4 separate regions of the Homo sapiens genome follow, and all the other regions are reported to be linked to region 4. The links are microRNA targets in miRTarBase. Many come from high-throughput screens and were not tested one by one. Region 4 holds a microRNA gene; each other region holds the end of a gene's coding sequence.
The links. Region 4 holds the annotated microRNA hsa-miR-4795-5p (AGAAGUGGCUAAUAAUAUUGA, at 1,555-1,575, opposite strand). A microRNA usually pairs through its seed, bases 2 to 8, with sites in the 3' UTR of a target mRNA and lowers its output. Matches are read on the target gene's strand: a 7mer-m8 pairs with bases 2 to 8, a 7mer-A1 pairs with bases 2 to 7 and ends in A, and an 8mer does both.

Region 1 (5,000 bases), not on the chromosome of region 4:
GGAGGCTGAAGCAGGCGGATCACCTGAGGTTGGGAGTTCAAACTAGCCTGGCCAACATGGTGAAACTCCTGTCTCTACTAAATATACAAAATTAGCTGGGCATGGTGGCACATGCCTGTAATCCCAGCTACTTGGGAGGCTGACGCAGTAGAATTGTGTGAACCCGGGAGGCGGAGGTTGCGGTGAGCCGAGATGACGCCATTGCACTCCAGCCCGGGCAACAAGAGCGAAACTCCATCTCAAAAAAATAAATAAATAAAATAAAAAATTTTGTAGCAACAGAATCGCTAAAATAACAGGTGACAGTAGACGATATATAGTATGATCTCAGTAAATAATTGGTTAGGTTTGTGAAGTAGAGGGATTTGAAAGACCATGTTCTGGTGGTGGTTTTTGTGTGTGTGTGTGTGTGTGTGTGTGTGTGTGTGATTTCAGTGTCCCTATTCAGGAATATTGAACATCTTTATTTCTTTGAGGATTTGGCTAAAAGGATATTAAGTTTTACCAGTCACTACTGATAATTCTTGTCTTTCATTCTCAGAAACATTGCAGCGGCCCGTGTGGAACATAAACAGAGAACTAGGCCTGCCTCATCCTCCTTTTTCCCAGCAGCCAGTCCATGAGTCACCACAACTTCATCAAAATGAGGGCCTGGCAGGGAGAGAGCCAGACTGTTCTGCTTCTTCCATGTCCTGCCACAGGTTACAGGATCATGCTTTTGATTTTAGTAGGACTCGGAACATTCAAGATGGTAGTGAGGGCACATGAAACTCACTTCAGGATGAAATCTGGGCAGAGACTTATTAATTAATTTTGCATTTACTACCTCAGAGCTCAGAAGAAACTCCGAAGTCAGCATTTGCTTTACTCTTTCTTTATGATTGCATCTGACCGCACCAAGGTGGGCCATGCGTTGTTTGGTCTTATACCTGATGAAGAAATGGCAACAGCTGACAGAAATGGGTACAGCTCATCAAAAATGTGCAGCACCGGCAGAGGGAAGATACGGGGCAAATGTGCTTCCTGATGCTTCCATGGGGATGTGCCCTGGTGTGCATCTGCTTGTCAGGAAGAGTCACATTGCTGCTTAACATGCTGGATTGCCCTAGTCTTCAGAATGGTCCTGAGAAAACATCACTACTTCGATGTTCTACTTTGCTTTCCAAGGAGCAAAAATAACTTTGGAGCCTTCTGGGAAGTGTGCCTGGGATTCTTCAGTGGTTTCAGGCAGATAGTTGAGACTGGGGCTTTGATATTCAAGGTCTTTGGCAAGAATCCCAGGCTTGACCAACTGGTACCAGGTCAAAGATTTTTGTATTCTTGTGAATTTTTTTTTTTGTCCCTATTGCCCAGGGATGTCATTGTAAATATATGTGCATTTATAAATAATTTTTGTATTCATTGACCATATGTGTTGGCTGCAATGTAAATATTTTTGATATGCCAAAATTATATGTAATATCCAGTTATAATATTGACAAGTAGCTTCTCAGATCACAGATTTTAAATAACTCAATTTAGTGAGATCTAAAAATTTTATTTAAAGTATAAAAACTGTGGCTCACACCTGTAATCCCAGCATTTTGAGAGGCTAAGGTGGGAGGATTGCTTGAGGCCAGGAATTTGAGACCAGGCTGGGCAACATGGTGAGACCCTGTGTCTGCAAAAAAATAAATTAAAAAAATAGGTGGACATTGTGGCATGCTGCTGTAGTCCTAGCTACTTGGGAGGCTGAGGTGGGAGGGTCACTTGAGCCCGGGAAATCAAGGCTGCAGTGAGCTGTGTGAAGCCACTGCATCCCAGCCTGGGTGACAGAGTGAGGCCCTGGCTCAAAAGTAAAATAAATAAATAAAAAGTTTTAAAAACTTACTTGTTAAGAAGTGTATCTATAGAGGCAGCTACTTAGTGATTGTATACACATAAACACAGTCTTGGTGTAATTAACCGCCTTCTTCATGCCTAGAGGTTCATACTTCTGGTCATTTGCCATCTGTTTAAAAGTGCTAGGTGATACTCCCTTTCTAACATAAAAAGCTTGTTCTTTCAGAGCCTGGCAGTCCTGTCACAGCTGTATGCACCTAGAGGAAAACTTGTTTGGAAATTCCTTTCATTTCCTCCCCCTCTCCCTCCTTCCCTCTTTTTTTTTACTGAAACAGAAATTGATTGAGGAAGGTTCAGTCATTCCTTCAGGAACCAATGAGTTAGATCGGGTTGTTACTTTATGTATAATGAACGCTTCAAAAACTGGAGGCTGATTTAAAGATTGCAGAACTTGAGTCAGACTCATAAGCAGTACTGTGACATGAATTGGAGCCAGAACAGTTGCTGATATCAGAACCATCTCTTTCATTCTGTGACTTTGCTCTTGCCATGTTCTGACTGGGGTGAGCCGCTAGGATACAAATCACTATCACTGTCCATATTTGAGTCTGCAAATCTTGTCATTGTCTGCTTTAATGCTCTTTGAGTTGCAACAGGTGTATTATTTAAATGAGTATTTGAAATTCTGTGAACAGGAATTCTTTTGGTAGTGAAATAGGTGCTCACACCTGCTTGCTCAGAATGTGAAAATATTATTTCTGAGTTCTCTTTGTTCACTTTCTAAAGTGACTGTTGTTTGGTGTTGGAGATGTTAACTGGGTTCTATTAGGTGTGCTATATCTTGGCAAATATTCCCCATGATGAACTCTTCCTACTATCACAATCAGGACTATGACTGGATTTCTCAGTCTCAGTGCCCCAGATTCACCATTTCTGATTGTGTCTGGAGAACGTTTTCCTGGAAAGGCATTCCATGTTCCAAAAGCTACAAAAACATGCCACTTTGCAACTATGGGTCAGTTATTTGCTCTCTCAATGTCTCATGTTGCTGAGTTCTAGAAAATCTCTGTCTCATTTACCAGGGGTCATTCAAAAGTCTGAGATGTATATTATCATGAAATATTTGTGAAATTTCTCACCATGAATTTGGAGGGAACCTACTTTTATTTCTCGCTCTGGTTCTCCATTGGTCTGGGCTCCTGCTTCTCAGTCTTCTCTGACCTCTGGTAAGTGGAACTTTCATTAATACTTCTGTCGCACTTTGTACCTGACCTAGGTGGCCTTGCAAATGTTGACTCAGATTGTGGATTTTCCACTTTCCTCTGTTTTCCCTATTTTCTCCCCTGGGAAATCTTGCAGATGATGCATATTCATTTTCTGTATTCAGCCTTCCATTATTAAGGATAAAATTGATCCCTACATTGAATCTGAAATTACCACTATATGGATTACTCTGGCTCACTGCTGTCCAAGCTTGGTTTTCTCTTTGCTTACTTCCTGTCATATTTTCAGTTTGCCCAAAAGAGGTAAGCCACTTTATTACAGACCCATTACTAGTGCTAGACGTCATCCACCTCTGTTTTCACCTGATTCTTGTGGGGAATCCTCTTTAATTTGTTGTAACCTTCTCAGCAACTCTTCTGTACTTCACCTATAGTGCCTAGCAAATTGTTATCACTCATAAGCCTGTAATCTTCATCACTCAGGTTATTTGCAAGTAGAAAGCTTCTGGAACCATTTGTCCATCCGACTTCTGCACTGGGCCACATCCATCTTCTTCATTGTCAGAATCTGAGTTTTCTGTCTTGAAGAACAGCTGGAAAGTTGTCTGGCTGTTATGACACAGTATTGAAATACCAGACTGAGTTTCAGTTGTTTCTAGTTGTGTTCACTTTGTGCTTTCTCTGAATGGGAATATCTTCTTTCAGCAAAGTTCTTCATTGACCAGGAAACCAAAGATTGCTTCTTTTCCAAGTTTGTTTTGTTTTTAATCTTTTACCAATGTGCAGTATATCTTAAGAAGGGAAGAGTGCTCTTGGGAGTAGAAGAACATGCAAACATTCTTTTTTCTTTATTATTATTTGAGATGGAGTCCCTCTCGGTCACCCAGGCTGGAGCGCAGTGGCATGATCTTGGCTTACTGCAACCTCCGCCTCCCAGGTTCAAGCAATTCTCTTGCCTCAGCCTCCCAAGTAGCTGGGATTACAGGCACACCACCATTTCCAGCTTTTTTTTTTTTTTTTTTTTTGATATTTTTAGTAGAGATGGGGTTTCACCATGTTGGCCAGGCTGGTCTTGAACTCCTGACCTCAGGTGATCTGCTTGCCTTGGCCTCCCAAAGTGCTGGGATTACAGGCATGAGCCACTTGCCTGGCCCCAAAATTCTTATACTGTAAAGCCTTGTAGTGGTCCTTATTTTTTTTTTTTTGAGACGGAGTCTCGCTCTGTCACCCAGACTGGAGTGCAGTGGCACAATCTCGGCTCACTGCAACCTCTGCCTCCCGAGTTCAAGCCCTTCTTCTGCCTCAGCCTCCCAAGTACCTGGGATTACAGGCATGCACCACCATGCCCGGCTAATTTTATTTGTATTTTTAGTAGAGACGGGGTTTCTCCATGTTGGTCAGGCTGGCCTCGAACTCCTGACCTCAGGTGATCCACCCGCCTCGGCCTCCTAGAGTGCTGGGATTACAGGCGTGAGCCACCGAGCCCGGCCGGTCCTTATTTTATACAAGTGATTAAGCCAAAAATTTTCTTGAATTTCTGATACCAAAGAGCTTTAGGTAAATAACTTCACACTCTAATGCAATGTAATTCTTTCTTTGTGCTTTCAGATTTCCTTACACTTCCTGTCCAGTTCTCTCTTCTAAATCCAATATTACTCACTAGATAATTTCAGCCACTTAAATAAAAATATCTATTTTTAAGTCCTGGTTCAAGGGTTCCAAACTCACATAATTTCTCAACTTTTTGCCAGAAAGTTGAGCATTTATTCATACTTATTTTCAATCCTAAGTGTTCTCCCATGGGCAGCAGCACTTCTTGAGCTGTTTAGTACTGCCACACCTTTTTATGTCTTTACTATGTCAGCCTCTGATCATTTTCACTTTGAACTTCCTAAAGATCACAATTTCCTATCCCTTCAATCTGCGATCCCTCTTCTTCCTTTCTTACTAGATTAT
Region 2 (5,203 bases), not on the chromosome of region 4:
GAAACTAGTAGGACTACTACCACATCTTTATCCCCTGAGCTGATCCGCTTCACAGCTTCCTCCTCGTCTGGGATGGTGCCCAAATTGCCAGCTGGCAAAATGAATAACCGTGATCTCAAACCCCAGCCTGATATAGTCTTGCTTCCGTTGCCCACTGCCTATGAGCTAGACAGCACCAAACTGAAGAGCCCACTAATTACTTCCCCCATGTTCCGTAATGTGCCCACAGCAAACCCCACGGAGCCGGGAATCAGACGGGTTCCGGGGGCCTCAGAGGTGATCCGGGAGTCGAGCAGCACAACAGGGATGGTCGTCGGCATTGTGGCTGCTGCCGCCCTCTGCATCTTGATCCTCCTGTACGCCATGTACAAGTACAGGAACAGGGACGAGGGGTCCTATCAAGTGGACGAGACGCGGAACTACATCAGCAACTCCGCCCAGAGCAACGGCACGCTCATGAAGGAGAAGCAGCAGAGCTCGAAGAGCGGCCACAAGAAACAGAAAAACAAGGACAGGGAGTATTACGTGTAAACATGCGAACACTGCTCACACGCGAGTTTTCACAGTTATTTCTATCCACGCCTATGAATCTTTGGACGGTGAGATCTCACAGATGTCAGAACTGCTGGAACTATGAAATGGGGTATATAACCACGACTCTGGTGGGGAAAACCGTTTTTTAAAGGACACACACACACACAGCGATGCATCTCTCTCTAAAGCTCAGCCACGGCTGCGGCAAGGTCCCAGCGGTCGCTGGGAGACAGAAGGTTTTGTGCCCTGCTGTATCATAAAGCACACACTTAGCGCTCTGGAGCCGGACGGTGGCTCCACCACTTCCGCAGGCCTGGAAACTTCCTTCTCCGGAGGACCTTTTACTAAAAGGTAGAAGACTTCATGGCTTACTTGTTCCATAACTCCAAGTGAGTCTGTAATGTTTGTGAAGCTTGACTGTAACCATGTTTTTTCTGTTTAATTATGTAAAAAACAAAACTACAACAACAAAAAAAGAAAAAAGTTAAAAAAGAAAAAAACACCAAAAAACAAAAACAAACAAAAAAAAAAACCCACAACCCTTATCTGGTTCTGACCAGTGTGCGTGTAACTTTATGATCTGAGGGGAAAAATGGCTTTTGGGTTTTTGTTTATTTTTTTGATAATGACTGGACATCAGAAGAGGAAAAAAACTCAAAACAAAAGCGAGAGAGACTATTGCCATATGAACTCAAAAGCTATCATGGTGTTCACTCTACATATCAGGTTATGGTGTCTCTAGAATCTGTTGTTTGTTTCCTATAAGATGCTTTGCTGAACACATAGCAAAATTCATGTGACGGATGATAAATTGATTCGAAAAGCTGGTCCCCCAGGATCTAATTTCAGAATTTACCACCCAAACCCGGAACAGATGGGTTTAGGGCTGGTGTTATCAGAGCTATTGGCTTTACGTAACAATATTGTTCCTGTCCATTCACCCAGCCAAATTGTGTTAAAGAGGAAAGCCCCACAAACTAAAACAGCCTTTCCTAGGGAAGAGGAAGGGGAGGTGGGCTGGATCTGTGACTGATTGAAATGCATGCAAATAAAAAAGACAATATTAAAGTCTGTTATCAAACCAGACAGTAGGGGAGTTCAACTCGTGATGGAACCACAAAAGGTCACACAAGCCAACCATGTCATGCCAGAGTACAAAACACATAGTTCTTTCCCCGCCCCGAATGTGACAATGGTTTTCATAGTGGTTTAATTTTGTAGCCTGACATTTATGGATAACTCTGTCCTTCCATTTGCTCACTTCTCTCTTCACCCATCTTTTTTAAAAACAAATAAATGAATAAAGCTGCTGTGACACACACACAAAAGGAATTTAATAGTATAATATATATATAAATAAATATATATACAGATATATTTATCATGGTATGTTTGATGGGATGACTGACACAGGAAATCTGTTAAAGTCTTAAAATGGAATGAGAATGTTGTTTTAAAAGAAAATAGCAAAACAACAAAAAAGCAAACCTTAAAATGTGAAGAAAGTGTGAATTTTAGTTTTGTCACAGTTAACTGTGTCAAAGAGAATTAAAAAAAAAAACTTCAGATTTTGTTTACATATTTTACTACATTTTTGCTGGTATAATTCCTTAGCCACCTATGTACATACTGCTTTAAGAAATGTTTTTTTCCTGTTTATTTCTGTTTGGTTTATATTCTGGTTGTCTTTTTCTTTTTGTAAAGAGGAAACAATGTACAGAAAAACAATAAACTGGTTGTATGGCCATAGCTATCCGAAAAGCAAGAGACAAAGCAAGACAAATATTCACACAAAAATGAAGTGTGTCCTCTGGAGGGTCAGATATACAATTTCTTTTGTACAGATGAAAATCAATCAGCTGCTTAGATTTAGAAATCTACTCTTGCTGGTCTTTGTAAGTTGCATGAATATTTGACTTTGAAAAAATATCTTAACGACATGGGGCAAAAAGTGCAATCTAAATGGTAGCCTTTACTAATGTGTGTGGAAAGAGGTGTTCCTCATTATCTAATATTTCAATGTGTTAAGAGTTTAATTTTTTTGTTATCATTAAAAAAGACAGGATTATAAAGAGATATCAAAGCACGATTTTAGATAACCTAAACGGCCCAGCCTATACGAAGTTGATTATATCTCGATGTCTGTAAAAGATTGCTGTTCTTGGAGTCTTGAGGTCTTGTGAATTGATTTCCTGCTTTCTTTCATTTTTTTCAATTTAAGTAATAATACATTTGTTATATTCCTTTCAGTGTAAGTTTCTATTTGGACAATTTTATGGGAACATGTGCATTCTCTATGTGAGCTTCTATCATATTCCTGTTTTATTAGCAGAACCTAAAGGAATTTATTTAATGATGTTGTGACATTACTGCTTTTTCTTTTTTCTTTTCTTAGTTCATATTTGCATTTTCGTTCAAGGATATGCTTAGCAATAAAATGTTCTTCCCAAAACCTTGTATGCTGATGCACTTTTATTTTCTTAACATTTGAGAAAATCTCGCACTGAAGCTAATTATGTCATATCTTATTAAAAGCCGAGTAAGAGCTAGACCACTTTCATGTGATAGAAGATATTCTAAGCAGTTACTAATTATTACATTATCAAAATGCCATATTTATGAGATAATTATCTGTTACTTGAGGCATTATTTTTTAGATTGCTATGATAGAATAACCAGGAGGGAGTGCATTTTTCTGGAAAGATGATAGAAACATTGTATTCTAGAAAAGATTATTGGATACTATGGTTTTGTTTGTTTGTTTTTGTTTTTTGTTTTTCGTTTTTTGTTTGTTTTTTTTTTGAGACAGAGTCTCGCTCTGTCGCCCGGGCTGGAGTGCAGTGGCACGATCTCGGCTCACTGCAAGCTCCGCCTCCCGGGTTCACACCATTCTCCTGCCTCAGCCCCCCGAGTAGGTGGGACTACAGGTGCCCGCCACCACGCCCGGCTAATTTTTTGTATTTTTCGTAGAGACGGGGTTTCACCGTGTTAGCCGGGATGGTCTCGATCTCCTGACCTCGTAATCCACCCGCCTCGGCCTCCCAAAGTGCTGGGATTACAGGCGTGAGCCACCGCGCCCGGCTTGGATACTATGTTTTTTAAAGGCATTTCGTACCTTTTACGTATTTTCTATAAGTCAACAAGCTTTAAACAGTATTTAAAACTATGTTCACATAGTGCCATAAGCACTAGAAAGTCTTAGATGTCTTCTTTCCAAGCCTCCCACCATATTAAAATTTAAAATTAAAAAACAGAATCCAAAACCAAAATTTAAATGAGTTCTTCAATTTTAACAGCTTCTTACAAGAATTTCTGATTACAACTTGTTTCATACACCCATTGTAGCAGTAATGTCTCATATTTCTCGTTCTCTCAGCACACACTTACTTGGCCAATTGGATAATCCATCTACCCTTTGTTCTTCACTGTAATCTAGAAATATAGATTTAACTGAACAGCTGTCCTTTATCCATATGTTGGTTACCAGTTTTCAAAGAGTTAGAATTTTAAAAATATATATTTAGTTAAGCCTGTGCCTTCAAGATAACATTAGTGGAGTGGTTATACTATCGACTATGTTAGGAATGGGGGGGAGAAAGTCAGGTTCAGTGATGTCAAATTATGTAAAGTTTTTTTTTTGTTCCTGTCTTCAAAGTTCTGTATTAGATGTTCTCCCATCATTTTTTGAGATGGAGTCTTGCAGCCTACAGTGCAGTGGCATGATATTGGCTCACTGCAACCTCTGCCTCTCAACCTCAAACGATTCTCCTGCCTCAGCCTCCTGAGTAGCTGCGACTACAGGCATGGGCCACCACACCCAGCTCATTTTTTAATTTATTTTTTATTTTTTTAGTAAGGAAGGGTTTCACCATGTTGGCAAGGCTGGTCTCGAACTCCTTACTTCAAGTGATCCACCCACCTTGGCCTTGCAAAATGCTGGGATTATAGGTGTGAGCCACTCCTCCTGAAATCTTTCTAAATCTCACTAATATATAATTCTAGGACTACTTTAAGCATTCACTTTTTCTTTAATTCAAGAAACATTTATTGAACACTTATGTACAAGCTAGTCTACTATTGGCTATTGTTACTTTGTTTCAATGAAGGCAGAAAATGGCTAGAAGGATTTTAAGCCTTTTTGTCTCTTGTATAAATCTATACAGGTCCAGTCTCTCTTTGCTCATATTCAAATTGAAGTTTGATCTTTCTCCAAAAAATATCCAAGCCCTGTGTTTGTCCCAGTTGAACTAATATCTTGATTATATAGTTTAAGATCAGTTTGATAATGTCTATTGAATATTTACTAAATGATTATGGGATATTAAATTGAGAGCCTTGGGAGCTTATCATCTAGTAAAGATGAACAAAAAATGGTACTATAGTGAATGCAAATAAGCTATCAAAAAGTACAAACTAAGTTGGGAGCTTAGAAGAAATTATGTAAGGGAAGGCTTCATAGAAGGGGTGACATTTTGGTAAACCTTGGAAAACTGATAGGCAGAAATAAGGGCTGTATATCATTCTAAGCAAACCCTTAAAGTGGGAGCAAGCAGGATCAAAACCATAATTTGGATTGATGACAGACTGCAAAAAGTACATTGGAGGAAGATATGAGTAGGAAGGTTTTTGAAATCATGTCAATGAATGGGAAGAGAGAAATGGGAGAATA
Region 3 (5,203 bases), not on the chromosome of region 4:
GACTCATGCAGCGGAGCTCTAGCTTCCCGTATACCACCAAGGGCTCGGGCCTGGGCTCCCCAACCAGCTCCTTTAACAGCACGGTGTTCGGACCTTCATCTCTGAACTCCCTACGCCAGTCTCCCATGCAGACCATCCAAGAGAACAAGCCAGCTACCTTCTCTTCCATGTCACACTATGGTAACCAGACACTCCAGGACCTGCTCACTTCGGACTCACTTAGCCACAGCGATGTCATGATGACACAGTCGGACCCCTTGATGTCTCAGGCCAGCACCGCTGTGTCTGCCCAGAATTCCCGCCGGAACGTGATGCTTCGCAATGATCCGATGATGTCCTTTGCTGCCCAGCCTAACCAGGGAAGTTTGGTCAATCAGAACTTGCTCCACCACCAGCACCAAACCCAGGGCGCTCTTGGTGGCAGCCGTGCCTTGTCGAATTCTGTCAGCAACATGGGCTTGAGTGAGTCCAGCAGCCTTGGGTCAGCCAAACACCAGCAGCAGTCTCCTGTCAGCCAGTCTATGCAAACCCTCTCGGACTCTCTCTCAGGCTCCTCCTTGTACTCAACTAGTGCAAACCTGCCCGTCATGGGCCATGAGAAGTTCCCCAGCGACTTGGACCTGGACATGTTCAATGGGAGCTTGGAATGTGACATGGAGTCCATTATCCGTAGTGAACTCATGGATGCTGATGGGTTGGATTTTAACTTTGATTCCCTCATCTCCACACAGAATGTTGTTGGTTTGAACGTGGGGAACTTCACTGGTGCTAAGCAGGCCTCATCTCAGAGCTGGGTGCCAGGCTGAAGGATCACTGAGGAAGGGGAAGTGGGCAAAGCAGGTCAGTGCCGAATGCTATGGCATAAAAATAACAATATGGGGATGAGGGGGGATCTCTGGGGGAGCCTGTCTTCTCTTTACTTTGAACTTTATTCCACACTGAAAACCATGGAGCAGTGGTGCACATAATATGGCTCCCAGCCAGTTCCATCTCAGGGTTTTACCTGCAAACCAAATAGGGCTGTCAGGTGCCCCCCTTCCCCCGCACAGTTTGCTGATAGTTCAGAAATCTACTGCTCGTGAAGAGAACACGTACGCATTCAGAGATCGCATTCTTTTTTTGCATCCAGTTGTCCTCACTGGCCTGTGACGCAGGTTGCCCTACTTGATGGATGGATGAGAAGAGAAGGAGAGGGATGGGAAGCTTGGGTCGTACTTCAGGGTTAAGGATCCCAGCCAAAGGGCTTTCCTAGAAAGACTCTCTGGTCCGTCACCGCTTTTGTCAATCTTCAGTGTTACATGTTCTTCATCTTTTTTTCCTTGTAAAGTAATGATCGGCAGGTACTTCTAATTTGCCTGCAGAATATGTATTCTAGACTCTTTCATATATGAATATTTCTAACAGAAGCAAAATCTGTTAATTATTCTTTATCTTAGTACTAAGCATCTTTATTAGCTAGCACTCAAGAGCTAAACCTTTAAAAAAGTAAGAGGCCAGGCACAGTGTCTCACGCCTATAATCCCACAACTATGGGAGACTGAAGCAGGAATTGCTTGAGGCTAGGAGTCAGAGACCAGCATGGGCAACATAGCAAGACTCTGTCTCTACAGAAAACTTAAAAAATTAGCTGGGTGTGGTGACACATACCTGTAGCCCCTGCTTCTCAGGAGAATCCCTTGTGCCCAGGAGTTTGAGGCTGCAGTGAGTCATGATCGTGCCACTGCACTCCATCCTGGGTGGTAAAGCAAGAACCTATCTCTTAGAAAAAAAAAAAAAAAAAGCCAAAAAATTAATTTGAAAACACAGGTGTTTGTATGAGGGAGTACTTACTCGTGTGCTTCTGCTTGTTCACCAAACTATAAATGATATCAGCAGTTTCCAAACATAGAGTGACACAGGTTGTGAATGGTGATGGAGATTTTTTCAATTGTGGCATTTTAATGTTCTCAGAACCACAAAGATCAGGCAGTGTGATGTAAGAAAAAGCATTTGATTGAAATCAGGAATTGAGGTTCAGGCCCACTTCTACCACTTTCTTGCTACCACTATGGTTGTGTCTTAGGTCTCTGAGTCTCAACTTCCAGTTTTATAAAATGAGGATAATAGCCCCCATTACTTCACAGGGTTATTACAAGAATCAAATGCACTAAAGCATGTGAAACTGCAGTAGGCTGAAATATGTACCATGCAACTAGGTATACTGACAAATGGGCAAGCAGGTAGCCCAGAGAGGTTAAGTAGTTTGCCCAAGGTTACAGAGCTAGGTTGATTTCTTTTTTTTTCTTTTTCTTTTTCTTTTTTTTTGAGATGGAGTCTTGCTCTGTCTCCCAGGCTGGAGTACAGTGGCGCGATCTCGGCTCACTGCAAGCTCCACCTTCCAGGTTCACGCCATTCTCCTGCCTCAGCCTCCTGAGTAGCTGGGACTACAGGCGCCCGCCACCACGCCTGGCTAATTTTTTTTTTTTTTTAATTTTTAGTAGAGATGGGGTTTCACTGTGTTCACCAGGATGGTCTCGATCTCCTGACCTTGTGATCCGCCCGCCTCAGCCTCCCAAAGTGCTGGGATTACAGGCGTGAGCCACCGTGCCCGGCCTAGATTCATTTCTTAAATGGCTTGAACCCCCATAGTAGTTCTTCCTTATTCTCTCTAGCTGGTTAGAAAAAAAGCGGGGAGGGGAGGGAAGTGCCCTGAACTGGAGTCAAAGTAGCAGATGATAGACAAGCTTTCCCTAAAAACTCTCCTCCTCAAGAAGTAAGATGAACACTGGGATCTTCTACCAACAGGTTTGCACCCCTAGCCACCTCGATGTTAACAGGTTCTGTTCCGTGCCCCAGCCCTTTTGCTTTGTTTTGTTTTAGTCTCAGCAAGCTACTTACAGGCTTCTTTAAGTGGTGTAAAAAGCAAGGGAATTCAAAGCTGTAAAAACTTGAGCCTTGTTTAACCCTCTGCCATGATGAAGGACTTAACAAGGGTCTCCTATGGTGAGCTCACTCCAGCTCACGGGTGGTTGCAGAAAGGGGAATGTTAAGAGTGTTGTGATGCTAAAGCCTCTCAACTTTCTCAGGCCTAAGAGACCCCTAATGGAACTCAGATATCTGATTTCAGTCATTTAATAGCCCTTGAGATGGTGAAAAGACTGTAATGGAAGCTAAGTAGGGTGGTAGTACTTCCATGCCAGCCAGCTCAGTTCCATACCAGAACTTGGGCTAGTGGAGATTTGACTTCAGAAATGTAGATATTTGGCCTTTAGAAGACTAGTTTGTCTTCCTTTAAGGAGAAGAATATGGAAGATTTGTCTTTAGAAATGTAGATGTTTGGCTTTTAAAAGAATAAATGGTTTGTCTTCCTTTAAAAATAGGCTTTTAAAGACACAAGTAAGTTTTAATTTGAGTGTAATTGTAAGGAGGCCACTTTCTAGTTCGTTGGAAAATATGTGTTCAGAAGACAATGTAGTATCAGTTTTTGTCTGATTTTTCAAGTGTTGGTTTCCCTTTTGGTTGAACAGCAGATCTTTCTCGTATATGTGTAATTCTAAAGGATTGTACAGAAAATTAAGGGAGATCTAAATACTTAGATTTTTAAAGTTTATCTGGTGAACTCTGATTTTGGTGATGATAATAAATGACTGCATTGAGGATAATGCATTTCATTGTTATATCCTAATGAAGCTTTAGGGTCATCTTCGCCTCAGAATATTTTGGGGGAGGTTGTTTTGAGAAGATAACTTCTTCAGCTAAAAATGAAAAGTCACCAAATTTTCCTGAAAGTAGACTAGCTCAGTATGACCACAGAGCATTTAAAGAACCATCCAAAGGACAGTGGGGGCTGTGAGGGGATCTAGTTTCTGGTTTAGGATTTCCATTTTTGCTTAGAATCCATTGTTCTTTCAGCAGCCAGGAGCACATGCAACCTGAAGTGTATTTTTTACTTTAAAACTTAACTGTGACTGTCACTTCATTGAAGACTCTCCTAAATTCACAGAACGAGGCTGAGGTCAGACTCTGACACCCTGCTTCTCTCAAATTAACTGTCCCAGCTTCCCAAGAGTTGCTCTCTAATAACTTTCTTGGTTTAACTTCTTAGTGTTTCTCCAGACTGAATTCCTGGCTTGCTCACAGAAGAAGGTCATGTGATGCTGAATCTGAGCCGCCTTGTGTTAATGGAGCGGTCTGCTCAGTTGACAGGCAGTCTTGCTGGGGAGCTGCAGCAAGATGCTTCTCTGGCGGGCTGGGTGTTTCACACGTCATTCATTTTAGACCACGTGTAGAATTCTTTGACCCTTAGGTCTATCTGGAAAAGAAAAAATAGCCATACTTTTTTGGAGGGCTGGCTGCTGGGTCGTGAAGGGCACTGTGTTCTCTCAGGTGTTCATAAAGCTTGGTGCATGTGCTTACAGTTGGTGGCAGAGATGGTCATGAGCTGGTGTGGTGCTGCAAGCTCGAGCTTCCGGTAAGCCTTCTTGAGTTCGACATGTGTCCTCTCTGAGGGAAACCAGCTTCAGTCTCACCTTAATTTGATATCAAAGATGCCTGCATTCACAAACTTTCATTCATCTTCATCTTTTGACATTTGGAGACACCATTAGGGAGCAGCCCAATATTTAGTTTAAAGTACTTTACATAAAGACTGGGAAGCATCCACCAGCAAAAGCCCAGATGGAGAGGGGAGGGGTGGTTCACTTCTTGTCTCTGCCACATCACTCAATCTTGTAGAATATTAGGTTTCTCATTTGTCAAAAGAAGACAGCCTCATCAAGTTTTAAAGGTGCATAGTATGTATAATTTTAAACTTGAAGACCGGGCGCAGTGGCTCACGCTTGTAATCCCAGCACTTTGGGAGGCCGAGACGGGTGGATCATGAGGTCAGGAGATCGAGACGGTGAAACCCCGTCTCTACTAAAAATACAAAAAAATTAGCCGGGCGTGGTGGCGGGCGCCTGTAGTCCCAGCTACTCGGAGAGGCTGAGGCAGGAGAATGGCGTGAACCCAGGAGGCGGAGCTTGCAGTGAGCTGAGACTGCGCCACTGCACTGCAGCCTGGGTGACAGAGCAAGACTCCGTCTCAAAAAATAAAAAAAATAAAAACTAAATAAACTTGAACCCTAACATTTTGTCTGTGAAATGGACCTGGTGAAGTCTATGTTATGATACAGAGCTAGAAAGAAATAGTGGTGTACTAGTGTGGCATCAGCAGGCTGCAGTAT
Region 4 (5,182 bases):
GGAACTTTAGGATGTGATTAAGTCATGAGGGTGGAGCCCTCATGAATGAGATTAGTTCCTTTATAAAACAGGTGTGAGGGAGCTGCCTACCGCCCTTTTACCCTTCTGTCCTTCTTGCCATGTGAGGATACAGCATCTCTTTCTTCTTGAGGATGCAACAGCAAGGTACCATCATGGAAGCAGAAAGCAGCTCTCACCAGAAACAAAACCTCTGGGTTCCTTGATCTTGGACTCCCCAGCCTCCACAAATGTGAGAAATAAATTTCTACTGTTTATAAATTACCCAGTCTGTGGTATTTTGTTGTAGCTGCACAGAGGGGCTAAGACATTACGTGCCAAGCACTACTTTGAATGTTTAACATATTAACTCATTTAATCCTTGCAACAGCTATTAGGTTGGTGCAAAAGTAACTGTGGTTTTCGCCAATTACTTTTGTACCAACCTAATATATGAAAGGTGGGCTAATGTTATCTCTATCACATATGTGATGAAAGAAACACGGAGAGCTTCAGTGAACTGGCCTAGGTCTTAAAACTTAAAAGTCACAGAATTGGTCACAGAACTGGGCAGTCTGTGTCCAGAATCAGCACTCTCCAATGTTATGCTATCTTTCTTCAAAAGCTGAACAAGGAGAAGAATGCACCCATTCAAATTATAACCCGAGGTACCCAAAGATGAAAAAATGGCAAATATTTCAGTTTCAGAGGAGGAAACTATGTTATGAAATACTCCAGAAAACAACATATATTTAAGTGTATCATGCCCTTTAAATAAGGAGCGATATAATAATACAAAATGTGTACAGGAGAAATGTGGCCACCAACTAATCAGAATGGACTCTAGCTAGACTGGTGCAATCAGCTGAATATCAGCCTTCTTCAAACTATGGGAGAACAAGCTATTAGAGTACTGAGTTTAAATAGTAAATATTTCTATTTTGTCTTTATTGTAATGAACAAGCCCTGTCTTTAGCTCCTGCTGTGCACTTTTGGAGGGTCTTCCATATGGTTGCTCCTAAGTATTTTGGCATTTTCCCAACTGTTACAATTGGGTCAGTGGGGGGGATTGTATAGGAGTAATAAAACAAGGGTGACTGCAGCAGGGAGGAGTACGATTACTACACACATAACAGCTTATTGCCTCTCATGCGTTCAAGCACAGCTCTATGCCATTCATTACAACAGACAGCCAGGGCAAACTGCCATAGAGCTCACTCCAGAAAAGGCCCGGTCTTGAGTGCAGAGACTAAATCTTCTCACTTACATGTCTTCCTAATGTTTCCTTACTTCATCTTCCCATATCGAGAATAACTTGAGGAGAAGCAAAACAATTATATCTTGCATATTACTACGTCATTCTTAAGAAAGTTTTCTTGAACAGACTCTCAGCTAACTTTTAGCAGCAGCAGCAGCATTATCAGTGGCTATGAGGGCTTGGATATCTCAGGAGGGGAAAAATGGGAAAGGCTGGCCTGATTATCATAAATAATAATCCTTGAGACATGATTCATAAATCCAGAAGTGGCTAATAATATTGACATTATTGTTATAGTGTCAATATTATTAGCCACTTCTGGATTTCTTCCATATCAGAGATAATATTTATGAAAAAAAAAATGCTACCATTATTTTTATCCTGTGGAAGGCAGTGTTGCTTTAAACAGTAGAGACTATATACAGGTACGCACGCATAGGTTGTATTTTCCATTTTATACATGCAAGGATTCTTTAAATAATTCATTACATTTTTTCTTTAACATGATATGCAGTTTTTCACAAAAAGCCCAAATAAACGGCTGTGAGGAATTCTAATAGGATCACCGTATAGCCATGACACTTTATGATTCATGATTTACAAGAAATTAAGAAATAGAGCTGGAGACATTTAGACCAGCCTACAAATTTGTGTGTGTGTGTGTGTGTGTGTGTGTGTGTGTGTGTTTTAATGTTTCCAGGCAAGAACCTTAAACAAAAAGTGTAGCATTAAAAAACTTCCCTTCGTCCTCGAGACCCCCCCAACTCTAGACACTGGATCCCCGGAGACCCACGCTGGGTCGTCGGAGTCTGGAGCCGGGGGCGGCAGGTGAGCGGCTAGGGTCCTGCAGGGGTCTGCGCGGTGCGGGGGAGGTCGCCGAGTCAGTCAGTGCCGAAAGGACCGCGAACTCCAGGGGCCAACAATCACCGGGTACGGAACTCAACGTTTCCGCCAGTTCCTGGATTACTCGAGTAAAAACAAACAAACAACAACAACAACAACAACAAAAATACTAACAGCAATGGGACCGTAATAAATCAACTCGGAGTGGGTACAGGCGGTTCCGGGACAACCCACACTTAGTCTAGGAGCCCGGAGATCCCTCATCCAGCTTTCCCCGGGGCAAGGGGTGAAGCGCTAAGCAAGGCTGATCACTGTCCTCAATCATCACCCAACCCGCGCACAGAAGCCGTGGCCCCACGCTCTCCTATCCCCGCCAGCTCCAGACTCGCCCCGCTGCCAACTCCCGGTGCAGGAGGAACTGGCAGCCGCAGACGTGAGGAAAGCGGCCGCGGCTTCAAACTCCGTAGTGCGCAGGCGCCACACAACGCGCAGGCGCCGCCTAGAAGTGACTTCTCCAAAAAGTGTGTTAGTTCCCGGTCACCTGAGCTCCGGGTGACGCGGCTGCGGTAGCTGCGGATACAAGCCTTCCGCGGGTCCTGCCTGGCGACCCCGACCTCCTCCTGCTGTCTCTCCGCTCCGCCACCCCGAACCCGCCAAGGTCCTGTCCTTTTCCTCCTGTCCTTTGCCAGCGTTGGGCCGGACCGGGCCGAGCCGGGCCGCCCGGGCGCAGTCTTTAACCATGGCGTCCCTCTTCAAGAAGAAAACCGTGGATGGTGAGTTCCAGGCCGGGCTGAAGGGGCCCAGCTCTGCGTTTTCTCGGCGTCTTTCGAGGCCTGCTGGCCGCGATTCTGCCTACTGTCCCTGGAGGCGGGGCTGGATCAAGTGGTCCCACAGGTGACCGCCCTCGCGGCACCACTTCTCTGCCTCCCTCTTGCTTCTGACTCACCTCACCTTAGGCTCACCTAGGCAGTCTGGTTGCTTCCCTATCCTCACGATTCCCCCACCCTCGGGTTTTCCTCAGCAGGATCCTGAGCGTTTCGAGGAGGCTAGCTGGCCCTTGAGTGTCAATAAACTTGGAAATCTGATGGATTTCTTGTTGGTTTCCTCTGCTTCGATTGTTGCTCTTCAGTTGGGCGATATACTACTTGTAGGCATCCATACAGGAAACTGGCAGTCTCGGAATGGGGAGGGAGGGGATAACAGGCTCCAGTTAGGAAATGAAGTTGGGTCTGGGTCAGTTGCTTCTTTAAGAACACCCCATCAGTAAAGAGATGTGAAACAAATGCTTTTTTGATTAACCCCAGTAGAAAAATAAACCCAAGGGAAGTGCCCAGATTTAGTTTTCATAATGGATTTTTCTCCCTTATGATTATTTTTTGCCAACTAAAGAAAGAGATGGGGTATATATTGTCTTCATAGAAGTTTAACATGTAAAGATAATTGTGTTGTTTCCCGCATTTAGCTTAATATCATCTTAAGCGGGGAAAAAAGTGAATGTAAAGGAATGTACAAGTTTTATGGTGCTCATATGCGATGCCTATAATGTGTTTATATAACACTTGATGTTTTCATTGATTGCTACCAGGAATTAAATTCATTCAAGTTATTTAAAAATTGTGTTCCCCATTATATGTTTAGTCTAGGTTGTTGCTGGTTCAACCAAAGAATCACTTCTTTGTAAGGGTCTAATTCTGCCACAAAAGGAGCAGTGGTAGCTAGACAGTGATTGGTACAAATAGGGTGCTCAGTCCAGACCTGGACGTAACTCCTTCATTCCTTTGTGTTGACTATTCCAATGCCAGCAAAATTATTTTGGGGAGGATAACAAAGAAGTCATCTCTGCTCTGCTGCTGTACACTTCATTTCAACACATAATCTACTTTACCTCTAATTTATCAGATGACATAATACATTTTTCCTTACTCTGGGTGACTGAACATTTTTTTGATTTATTGACTTTTTATTAAGTACCATTTGCAATACCTGGAATAACTACCAACTTCGTATATTAGGTGATACAGTGATGTGAAATGGATTTTATGTGTGCTTTTCATGAGAATGCTGCTTAATCTTTAATATGGCACTTTATTTTTTCAGTGTTTTAGCTGCCACTGTTGTGAGCTTCACTTATTTTACAGTACTCCAGGGAGTGGGGGTGGGGGAACGATTTATTTTCTTTTTGCTTGAGTTTTATATAGTTACAGTTTTTTTTTGTTGTTTAGTTTTATATAGTGAGAATTTACTAAATGGAGAAAAAATGGTTTCATCTCCTTTACTGTGATGTTACAATTAGAGTTAATTTTTTTTTAACAATAAAAGCCAAGCATACTAGTTTTAATCGCCTAATACCTGTCAAATATTTTCAAAGACATAAATCTCAGTTCTGTGCTTCCTGGTGCTTTTGGAAATTTAGTGACTATTGTACTTGAAGTGTAGAGGAGAGAAAAAAAGACAATGGGGATGTGCAATGAGTGTTTAACTGTATACTCATTTGCAGTTAATTCTTCCAAGAAATAATGTTTTTGCTGAATAGACTTATTTGTAAAAGAGTCTTAAGGACTCTTGCTAGGAACTATGCCACTAAATTAACCATATGTGCAATTTCCAAATGTAAATTTGGCCAGCAGGTACATTTACTATAAACTACCAAGATGCATACTTGATGTTTTCTTATATTATTGTGTCAATTCCAGTCATTTACTGACATCTTAATAAATAGATCTGTATTTTCGTTATTTTGATATAGAGCTTTACTTTTTTTATTCCCTGTTTTATTGAAAGGAAGTTTTTTTTTGTTTTGTCTAAAAGGTGACAGCATTCTTCTTGGTAATGAGGCTGTATATTATGAATATGAAGTTTAATGTATTTTTATGTCTCTCAGATCGTTGGATTGATCATGAGCTCTTTTATTGTATGCTGACTTTTAAATCTGTTCCAGCAGTAATGAAATTCTGATATATAAGGGAAACATGTACCTGCCTATAGATCTGGGGAATAATTGAATCTTTTTTCCTGTTTGGATTGGCTGGAAGAGTTATATACTGTATCATTAAAGACTACTGCACATGTAAATTTAAAAGGAAG

Region 1: miRTarBase lists LRIG2 as a target of hsa-miR-4795-5p. Seed matches in the 3' UTR shown: 7mer-A1 at 773-779.
Region 2: miRTarBase lists NRXN3 as a target of hsa-miR-4795-5p. Seed matches in the 3' UTR shown: 7mer-m8 at 834-840.
Region 3: miRTarBase lists FOXO3 as a target of hsa-miR-4795-5p. The part of its 3' UTR that is shown has no 7-base or 8-base seed match.

What each region holds. Positions count from the first base shown.
Region 1 is chr1:113,123,334-113,128,333 of GRCh38, forward strand. It overlaps LRIG2 (leucine rich repeats and immunoglobulin like domains 2), which reads left to right. Exons shown (of 18, transcript NM_014813.3): 18 at 542-5,000. The coding sequence ends at 768. It also overlaps the pseudogene RLIMP2. Among named protein-coding and RNA genes, the nearest start is that of LRIG2, 53 kb to the left of the region's middle.
Region 2 is chr14:79,861,434-79,866,636 of GRCh38, forward strand. It overlaps NRXN3 (neurexin 3), which reads left to right. Exons shown (of 21, transcript NM_001330195.2): 21 at 1-5,203. The coding sequence ends at 531. Among named protein-coding and RNA genes, the nearest start is that of NRXN3-AS3, 230 kb to the left of the region's middle.
Region 3 is chr6:108,664,050-108,669,252 of GRCh38, forward strand. FOXO3 (forkhead box O3) reads left to right here. Exons shown (of 3, transcript NM_001455.4): 2 at 1-840. The coding sequence ends at 806. Among named protein-coding and RNA genes, the nearest start is that of LINC00222, 85 kb to the right of the region's middle. RefSeq lists a silencer at 348-548.
Region 4 is chr3:87,224,686-87,229,867 of GRCh38, forward strand. MIR4795 (microRNA 4795) reads right to left here and starts at 1,592; the gene lies at 1,504-1,592. CHMP2B (charged multivesicular body protein 2B) reads left to right here and starts at 2,624. Exons shown (of 6, transcript NM_014043.4): 1 at 2,624-2,871. The coding sequence starts at 2,838. RefSeq lists enhancers at 2,076-2,215, 2,326-2,385, 2,476-2,525, 2,576-2,645, 2,716-2,835.